Linked DNA regions of Homo sapiens: region 2 is linked to region 1. The links come from fine-mapping of genetic effects on gene expression. Tissue or cell type: whole blood. Region 1 holds a variant in brackets; the other region holds the start of a gene. All regions are shown on one strand. Distances are between the middles of the regions. Region 1 overlaps UBE3B (ubiquitin protein ligase E3B). Region 2 holds the start of MMAB (metabolism of cobalamin associated B).

Region 1 (4,391 bases):
TCTGGCCCACAGTGCCTAAAAATATTTACTCTTTGGCTGTTTCCTGAAACAAATTGCTGATCCCTGATTTAAAGCATAAATGCTAAGTCAGACCTGAGTTCTATTCCTGGCTCTGACATACAGGCTGTGTGATTTGGGGCCAATTATTTAACCTTTCTGTGCTTCAGTTTCCTCCTGTATAAGATGGGGATAACACTGGGCTTCAGAAAATGGAAAGCAAACAATACATACGGAGTGCTTAGAATGGTGCCTGGCACATAGTCAGCACCCACTGACTACTGGCTCTTATCATTGTTACTCTCGTGGTGATAATGCTTTTCTCCATAATCCCACCTTCTTTTCACGCACATTAAATGTTCATGGATAGGTTTAAGTGTTTTGTTTCCCCACTGGATAGGAGAAATAACAGACCAGGTGGAGTCTCCACCTGAAGCTTGGGTTTCTCTGTGTTTTTTCCAGGTCTCACTTACCTTGATGACCTGCTTCCCAAACTGTGGGCATTTATCTGTGAGCTCGGGCCCCACGGAGGGTTAAAGCTCTTCTTGGAATGCCTGAACAATGACACTGAAGAGTCCAAGCAACTCTTGGCCATGCTGATGCTGTTCTGTGACTGTTCGCGGCACCTCATCACGTAGGTTGACTGCTGTGGGACTGAATTCCTTTCCTAGAATATGGAGAGACCAAAATACAGTGTCAGTAAGGAAGTAATTGCTAATGTGATTACTGCAAACATTTGGACCTGTGTGGCAGGGCATTGTAAGAACTAGCCATTTACCAAGTGAGCAGTGTGCAGTAAATGTTCAGCAGTTGTTAGGGTGGGGCCTGGGAGTTAAAAGTTCCCATCCTTTCAAGGAAGCTGATCAGTACCACTGGCTGTGGCTTGGGGTCTCCTGGAGATGGGTTTAGATCATGGCTCAGCCATTTATTCACTGTGCTAGCTAGATTCCTGGAAAATTCCAAAGTCAGAGCCAGGGTGCAGATCCTTGCTAAGCAGATCTTGAGACACCCTGGGCAAGGGATCACGGATTCAACCTCTCTGAGACTCAGTTGACTCATCTGTAAATGGGAATGACAATAGCACATACCTTTTAGGCACATGGTAGGGATTAAAAGACATAATTATTGCAAAGTGCTTATCACAGTCCCTGGCACATAGGATGAGTTCAGTACTTGTTGGCTCTTATTATTATCAAGCCGACCCTGAGCAAGTTTCTTAACCTCTTTGAGTCTCTATTTCCTCATTAGAATGAAGAGAATATTACCAGTTCAATAGAGGGTAAGTGAAAAAAACAGCGTCAAATACTTAGTGCAGTGCCTGGCACAGAGTGGGAAATTAACAAACATTAGTCCCATTTAGTTCCTTTGGTTTTTAAGCTTATGCATCTTGTGTGTTTGGTATTCTTTTCATTCCACCTTTTCCCAAAAGGTTGGTGAAGAATTATAAGATACAATGGACCTCAGGCAGTTATGTTCAGGCTGGAAGACTTTAGCCGGAGAGGATCAGGGACATGTAGGTGGCAGATTGGGTGAGGATCATGGAAGAACTCACTGAGCAGTTGGAGGCAAGAGCAGGGGTCTAGCTGCTGGTGAAGACATCCTTAATCACTGGATGGGGGTAAGCCAAGAGTGAATCTTATTCTAGTGTATGGAGCAGTGTTAGGAAATGTTCAGATAGAGCTGTGTCTTAAATGGCTCATTTATTCATATGTTCTTTCAAACATTTATTCATTTACTCACAAATGCTTACTAAGTACCTGCTAAGTGTCACTAGTATGTGTCTTAGATATCGAAAAGATTCTGCAGCTTTCCTCAGTAAACATCGACTCTCAGTCAATGTTCCTTGATATGCAGACATGAATAAGGAAGGCGTGAATTGAGGTGTGAATTAAGAAAGTGTCACAGTCAGATCCTTATGAATAAGAAAAATATAGAGTACAGATTTTTTCTTAATTGTATTTTTTAACTTTTTACTATGGTCGATTTCAAATTAATAGAAAGTAGAAAGGATAATATAATGAACCCTCATGTGCCCATTATCAGCTTCAACAGTACCACCTCACAGCCAGTTTTGCTTCATCCAAATGCCCACCTGCTTTTCTCTCCCACATTATTTTGAAGCAAATCCTAGACATCATATCATTTTTTTCATTTTATTTTTATTTTATTTTACTTTAAGTTCTAGGATACATGTGCTGAAAGTGCAGGTTTGTTACATAGGTATACATGTGCTGTGGTGGTTTGCTGCACCTGTCACCCCGTCATCTAGGTTTTAAGCTCTACATGCATTAGGTATTTGTCCTAAGGCTCTCCCTCCCCTTTCC[C/T]CCTACCCCTGATGATATCATATCATTTTATCTGTAGATTTTACAGTAAGTATCTCTACAAGATAAAGCTTATTTCTCAACCTCGTTTATTGTCTAGTAAGCAGTACAGATTTTTTTTCTCTTCGCCTTTTTTCAGTGTGGAATTGTGGGTAATTTTCTCTCTGATTTAGAATCCTTGATGACATTGAAGTTTATGAAGAACAGATTTCATTCAAACTGGAAGAGCTGGTCACTATCTCCTCTTTCCTGAATTCTTTTGTGTTTAAGATGATCTGGGATGGAATTGTAGGTAAGAGAAAAGGTGTCTGCTGTTGTTTGGTTGATGCTGCACCCAGGGAGGCCGAAGAGTCTATGGCATCAACTGATTCTTAGCTTTATTGTCTCTCCAAGTTAATAGAAGGTGCACATTTATTCCCACAATTGGAAATTTTCTTTCTTCACTCTCTGTGACTTCTTAAGATAGTGGTGTGGTTATAGAAGTCTTGCTCTCCCAGGCTCCCTTCAGGATTTGCATGTATGTGTCGAGGATTATTAATGATGATTAATTTTGCCCTGAATCTCCTGTTGATTCTTCCATTTGATTTCCGTGAAGATAAAACATGTGCCAGTGCACACTTGAGATGAGAGTCCACCTCCCGAAGTGTCTCCAATTGCTCAGGACAAAGCTCCTTAGACTTAAAAGGCCCTTCGGATGACACACTAGTGGGAGGCAGCATGAGTGATTTTGTCTGAGAGGTACTCAGGCCCTGCAGACACTTAGCACTTACCCAGGGTGCCTTTTAATTCTGTCGGTTCCACATATAATTCAGAGCGAGGGAGATCAAGGACTTGATGACAACTGCGGAAGACAAGAGCTGTCCTCCCCTTGCTCTCTGGCTCTGACTCCTCCTCTGACTTTCCTGTTTGTTTGTCCCACAGAGAACGCCAAGGGTGAGACCTTGGAGCTGTTCCAGTCTGTCCACGGGTGGCTTATGGTGCTGTACGAGCGGGACTGCCGGCGGCGCTTCACCCCCGAGGACCACTGGCTGCGAAAGTGAGCTCCAGGGGTGAGGAGGGCTCCATGGAAGCCAGCCTGCTCCGGCACGCTGCCCGAGCACTCAGCTCTCATGTTCTAGGGCAGAGAGGACTTTTTCCCTCTGCTTCATTTTGTCTGTTCATTTGTGTAAAGAGAGCTGCTGTCCCTGTGAAGCACCTGTCAGGACGCTTCTGTTAAGAGATGTTTACACCAAATATGATTAGAGTTAATTAATGGCAACAGAGCCAGATTATATTTAGCATACATTTCTCATCCAAACTAGGAAGAGGTCTTTTAGCTGAGCTGAGCAACAGAGCATGAGAGTTAAAAGGCAGTTTTTATTAGCAGAATTACTAGAGTAAAAACTGCTTTTAGGTTTTTTGGAGAGTAATGGGGTGGGGGAAATCCTCCTATCACAACTGAACATAGGCATGTATCTGCATTTTTATCAATGAGTTCAAGCTTTATGGCAACTGCTGAAGCTGTGGCACTAGAGCAGGGACTGGCAAACTTCTGTAAAGGGCCAGATGACTTTAGGCTTTGTGGACCAGACAGTCTCTGTTGTAGCTACTCAACTCTGCTCTTGTAGCACAAAAGCTGCCATAGGCTATACATGTATGAATGAGTATGGTCATGTTCCCATCAGACTCTTGAGAAACAGACAGCACCCTGCATGTGGCCCACATGGTGTCATTTCCCAGCCTCACACTAGAGGATGGTTTCCTTCTTTTAATTCTCCCAAACCCATGTCTTTCTTCTCAAGGGATCTCAAACCTAGCGTGCTCTTCCAAGAACTCGACAGGGACAGAAAACGGGCACAGTTGATCCTGCAGTACATCCCACATGTCATCCCTCACAAAAACGTGAGTTGCACTCAGAGCTGGGCCCCGATGTGTCTTTCTATTCCCCCACGTGGTTCCTGCCTTTCCATCCTTGCTATGGCAATTGGAGGTGACTAAGTGGGATCATTCATTCAGCACAAGGAAACGGTGGTTGCTATTACTTTGGTGAGGTTACACCCAGTGCTGGGGTACAGAGCTGGAGAAGACAGTGTG
Region 2 (4,391 bases), 64 kb after region 1:
GATGGGGTTTCACCACATTGGCCAGGCTAGTCTCAAATTCCTGGCCTCAGATGATTAGCCCAACAGGGCCTCCCAAAGTGCCGGGATTACAGGCATGAGCCACCGCGCCTGGTATATTATACTTTAAAGTGGCTGCAAAGAATTTGGAAGAACTTTAAAATGGTGTATGCCATGAGTATTTCTTTGCATTTTTCACCTGTCCCCACCCTACCTTTGTCTCCCGTTTTGGTGTAAATCTTGGGGATCCTGGGTGTCTTCGAGGAAGGCTGTGGCCTAATGAGAAATAAACATCAGTATCTGGTGAGTGGGGATGGCTTACACAGAGGGTCAGCTCCTTCAGAGGGTCCCAGCTTGCTGCTTGTAACCTCAGAGGCAGCACTTACCCCTTACTGCTTAGATGGTCATCTCTTGTTGATTTCTTTCCCCTAGATCCTTTCTAATAGCAAACATTTTGTGGGCAAGACCAGAGCTGGATGACAGAGTGTGTAGAGTAGCTGATGTAATGCCTTGCTCAACAAAGATGCTCAATAAATATTTGCTGAAGGACTTGATTGATCCTTTGCCATTGTCCCTGCACTGTGCCAAGTAGTTTACAGGCATTATCTTCTGGAATTATCCTGGAATCTTTCCACAACCCCAAAGGTAGCCAACACCTATTCTCTTCATTTTACTGAGGAGGAAACTATGGCTCAGATGAGACACCTTCCTAGACCATCCAAGAAGAGGCAGGAGTGGGATGCCCAAAACTGTCCTAGACCAGAGCACAAACTGTAACTTCTATCCTACCGAAATTATTTATTTATTTATTATTATTATTATTATTTTGAGATGGGGTCTCACTCTGTCACCCAGGCTGAAATGCAGTTGCACGATCTAGGCTCACTGCAACCTCTGCCTCCCAGGCTCAAACAATCCTCCCACCTCAGCCTCCCGAGCAGCTGGGAGCACGGGTGTATACCACCACACCCAGCTAATTTTTTTTTTTTTTTTTTTTTGGTAGAGACGGGTTTCACCATGTTGCTCAGGCTGGTTTTGAACTCCTGAGCTCAAGCAATACTCCTGCCTCAAACTCCCAAAGTGTTGTGATTACAGGCGTGAGCCACCGTATCTGGCCTATGATTATTTTGTTCACAGACAGGGTCTTGCTCTGTTGCCTAAGCTGGAATGCAGTGCAGTGGCATGATCATAGCTCACTGCAGCCTTGAACTCCTGAGCTCAAGTGATCCTCTGCCTCAGCCTCCCAAGTAGCTAGGACTCTTAACTCTATCCTACCCAAATTTTTATCTTATACTCCACCAACTCAGGGCCTCTTGCAGGAAAAGAAACCTGAGCCACTTCCATAGTATGAGGCTTCGAGTGTACTCAGAGATGAAGAATTGCCAAAATACAGCTCAAAAAGTGGCATTTTCAAAAAACAATGTAAACAACTCAAGGACATAGCTCAAAATTAAAATGTGACATTACAAGCCCATTCGAAGGTTAATTTCCTGGATCTGTGAACTAAATTAATCCATTATTAATCCACGGTACTCTAGAGGTTCTGAGGTCTGGGTTGAGGTGCAAGTTTCAAGGAATATGAGGAAAGCCATCTTTAGAAGGTGCTGGTGTATCTGGGACCTGGGGAATAAACTGCTTTGGAGATTGGTCACAATCTGAGTCGAGAGCCCTCCTGGCCCACATGGGATATGCCCTGCCCTGCCCGATGATAGCGGGACTTCATTGGGACTTAGGCAAAGACTACCTGGTCTCTGGCGCCCACGTGGCCCACGTTGCCATGGTGACGTCAGAACAGCGTGGAGACGTCACCTGACGGTTGCCGCGGTGACCTCACGGCGGTGTGACGTACCCATGGCGACGACACCACGATTCACGGCAGGTGTTCGAGTTGCCCTTCCCGCCAGCCACTCACCTGTCCCCGTCTTCCACGCCCTGAGGGCCGCGGCTCTGGAAACGGGGATACAGGAGCCTGGCGGCGCCGAAGCACCCGCGCAGGCCAAGACGGCTCCCCAGGCCAAGACGGCTCCCCAGGCCGCACACAGCCATGAGCCAGGCTGCTTGACGGGACCTGACCCCGCCAGGTTCCCGTCCAGTCCGCGGGGTGACTCCACCCACAGCTGGCCGCGCCACCGCTCAGGTTTCAATTTTTATTGGTTCGCAGTTCTCACCCCAGGGCGGGACACTCCCAGGGACTTGTTTCCCATTGGTTTAACGGAAGGAGCGGGGCGGGAAAACCCGTGTCGGCTTGGCTGCAACACCTATTGACCAATGTTCAAGCCTATTGGTAAAGGTACTCCGGGCTCGCGCGCTCTGATTGGCTGGCCTGAAGTACAACGCCTCCTCCCCTTGAGGCACGGGCGCTCTGGGTTGTGGGAGTTGGGGAGCTGCTCCGGCTTCGGCGCGGAGGGGCGGCGGCCGGGGAGGCGGCGGCGGCGGCAGGTGAGAGGCCGGGGTCGGGCGGCCGGGCGGCGCGAGGTCCTAGACCCAGGACGACGCTGAGCCAGGCGTCCAGCTTCTGTGGCTCAGTTTACCCAGCTCTGAGAGTCTTGCCCCGAGGGATCGGCGACCTCAATCTGACAGTCGTGATTTTGAGCTTGACAAGCAAGGGGATTCCCCGCTCTGAGCCTCAGTTTTTCTAAGAAATGGGGATCACGATAGTACTTAGCTCATAGTACACCTGAATCTTAGCGTAAGGTAATCTACGTAAAGCCTTAAGCGGAGGATAATTTTGCGTTATGTATAAAAGTGTAAATTGCACACACCTATAGACCCTGCAAGCTCCTTTCTAGGACTCTGTCCTGCAGAAATACTCATTTAAGTGTGCAAAACGAGGCGTACTGGGTGTTTTCTGCAGCCTTGTTTATAATTGTGACACATTGGAAACAGCCTAAATGTCCAGCAAAGAGTTCTTTCTGCTCCATGATTTCATGTAATTTCTACCTTTAATAGTAGTAGTTGTAAAAGCTGAAACGAAGAACAGAGCCAGTAATAAGTAGCTCTCAGTAATTGAATGATTAGTAGGTGCCAGACACCGCCAAGTGTTTCCCTTGCGTTAATTTAACCTTCCTAACATCCACCGAGGTAGGTACGGTTATTTTCTCTCCATATAACGTGTGGGGAAACCGAGGTTCTTAGCCATTTAAGTGAGTTAACTAAGATGACATCACTGGGGAGTGGAAGAGCTGGCATTTGAACCCAGATCTGTTGGATGTGTCCAGTTGACTCCTGCATTGCCTTTCTGGTACGTAGCAAGTGCTGGACGGTAACTACCTTTTTTGTTATTATGATGGGCTTGAACTAGGTGTTCTAAGATCTCTTCCTGCTGGTTCTGACATCTAGAGATCTTTGCTCTTCTCATTGGCTTTCCCTTTTAGGATTCCCAGGAGCCATGTTGTCAGAAGTCCTACTGGTGTCTGCTCCGGGGAAAGTCATCCTTCATGGAGAACATGCCGTGGTACATGGCAAGGTACAAAGCCGTTAGAGCCTTTAAGGATTGGGTACCCCTTCTCCCTGATGCTAATTTTGTAAGAAGGTAAAAGGACACCCTGAGGCACAGCTTGGGAGCAGATCAGAGAGATCAGGTTCTCCCCAGCCAGGCAAGGAAAAGATTTCTTATGCCCACTGAAGGGATTCTTGGGCCTCGCTCGGTATGATAGCAAAAAGATGATTATAATATAAAGCCCTGTGAGTGGAATGAGATCACCTAGGAGTGAGCTTTGATGCAGAAGGAAAGAGGTTTGAGAACTGAGCTCCGGGGCACTAAGACATTTAGAAGTTGGAAGGATGATCTAGCAAAGGAGTTGAAAACATCCATTATCTCATTTTACCCTTACAGCTACCCCCAAGGCATACCCTTTTATTATCCTATTTTACAAATGTGCAAACTGAGGCTTAGGAGAGAAGTGGTAACTTGATCCAAGTCCTATATACCTTGGTAGAGCTTGGTGTGAACCTAAGTCTGTCTGAAACCACCTCTGCTGCACTCTGCTTTTTTTTTTTTTTCCTGAGACAGTCTTGCTCTGTCACCGGAGTGCAATCTTGCGATCATGGCTCACTGCAGCCTCCAACCTCAGCCTCCCAAGTAGCTGGGACCACAGGTGTGTACCACCATGCCCCACTAATTTTTTTCTTTTATTTTTCTGTAGAGACGTGGTCTGACACTACGCTGGTCTCAAACTCCTGGGCTCAAGTGATCCTCTTGCCTTGGCCTCCCAAAGTGCTGGGATTACAGATATGAGCCACCACACCTGGCTTCTCACTGCTATTCTTTATGTTCTTATATTTCTCATTGAAAACATGGTGATTATGGGGAAGTGATTCCTTGGTATTGAGAACCTCTGAAATTTTGCAGGCAGAAGGCAAAGTGGATTTTAACTTTTAGCTGATCGATGGTG

What was found.
Region 2: it holds the start of MMAB, and the variant in region 1 is fine-mapped to the expression of MMAB in whole blood (TOPMed, PIP above 0.99).

What each region holds. Positions count from the first base shown.
Region 1 is chr12:109,507,105-109,511,495 of GRCh38, forward strand. UBE3B (ubiquitin protein ligase E3B) reads left to right here. Exons shown (of 28, transcript NM_130466.4): 15 at 460-631; 16 at 2,492-2,610; 17 at 3,240-3,354; 18 at 4,100-4,199. Among named protein-coding and RNA genes, the nearest start is that of UBE3B, 32 kb to the left of the region's middle. The variant C/T (reference allele first, on the strand shown) is at 2,322.
Region 2 is chr12:109,571,438-109,575,828 of GRCh38, forward strand. MMAB (metabolism of cobalamin associated B) reads right to left here and starts at 2,067. Exons shown (of 9, transcript NM_052845.4): 1 at 1,910-2,067; 2 at 212-273. The coding sequence starts at 2,043. MVK (mevalonate kinase) reads left to right here and starts at 2,357. Exons shown (of 11, transcript NM_000431.4): 1 at 2,357-2,436; 2 at 3,372-3,463. The coding sequence starts at 3,386. RefSeq lists enhancers at 1,457-1,958, 1,959-2,458 and silencers at 2,218-2,347, 2,368-2,597.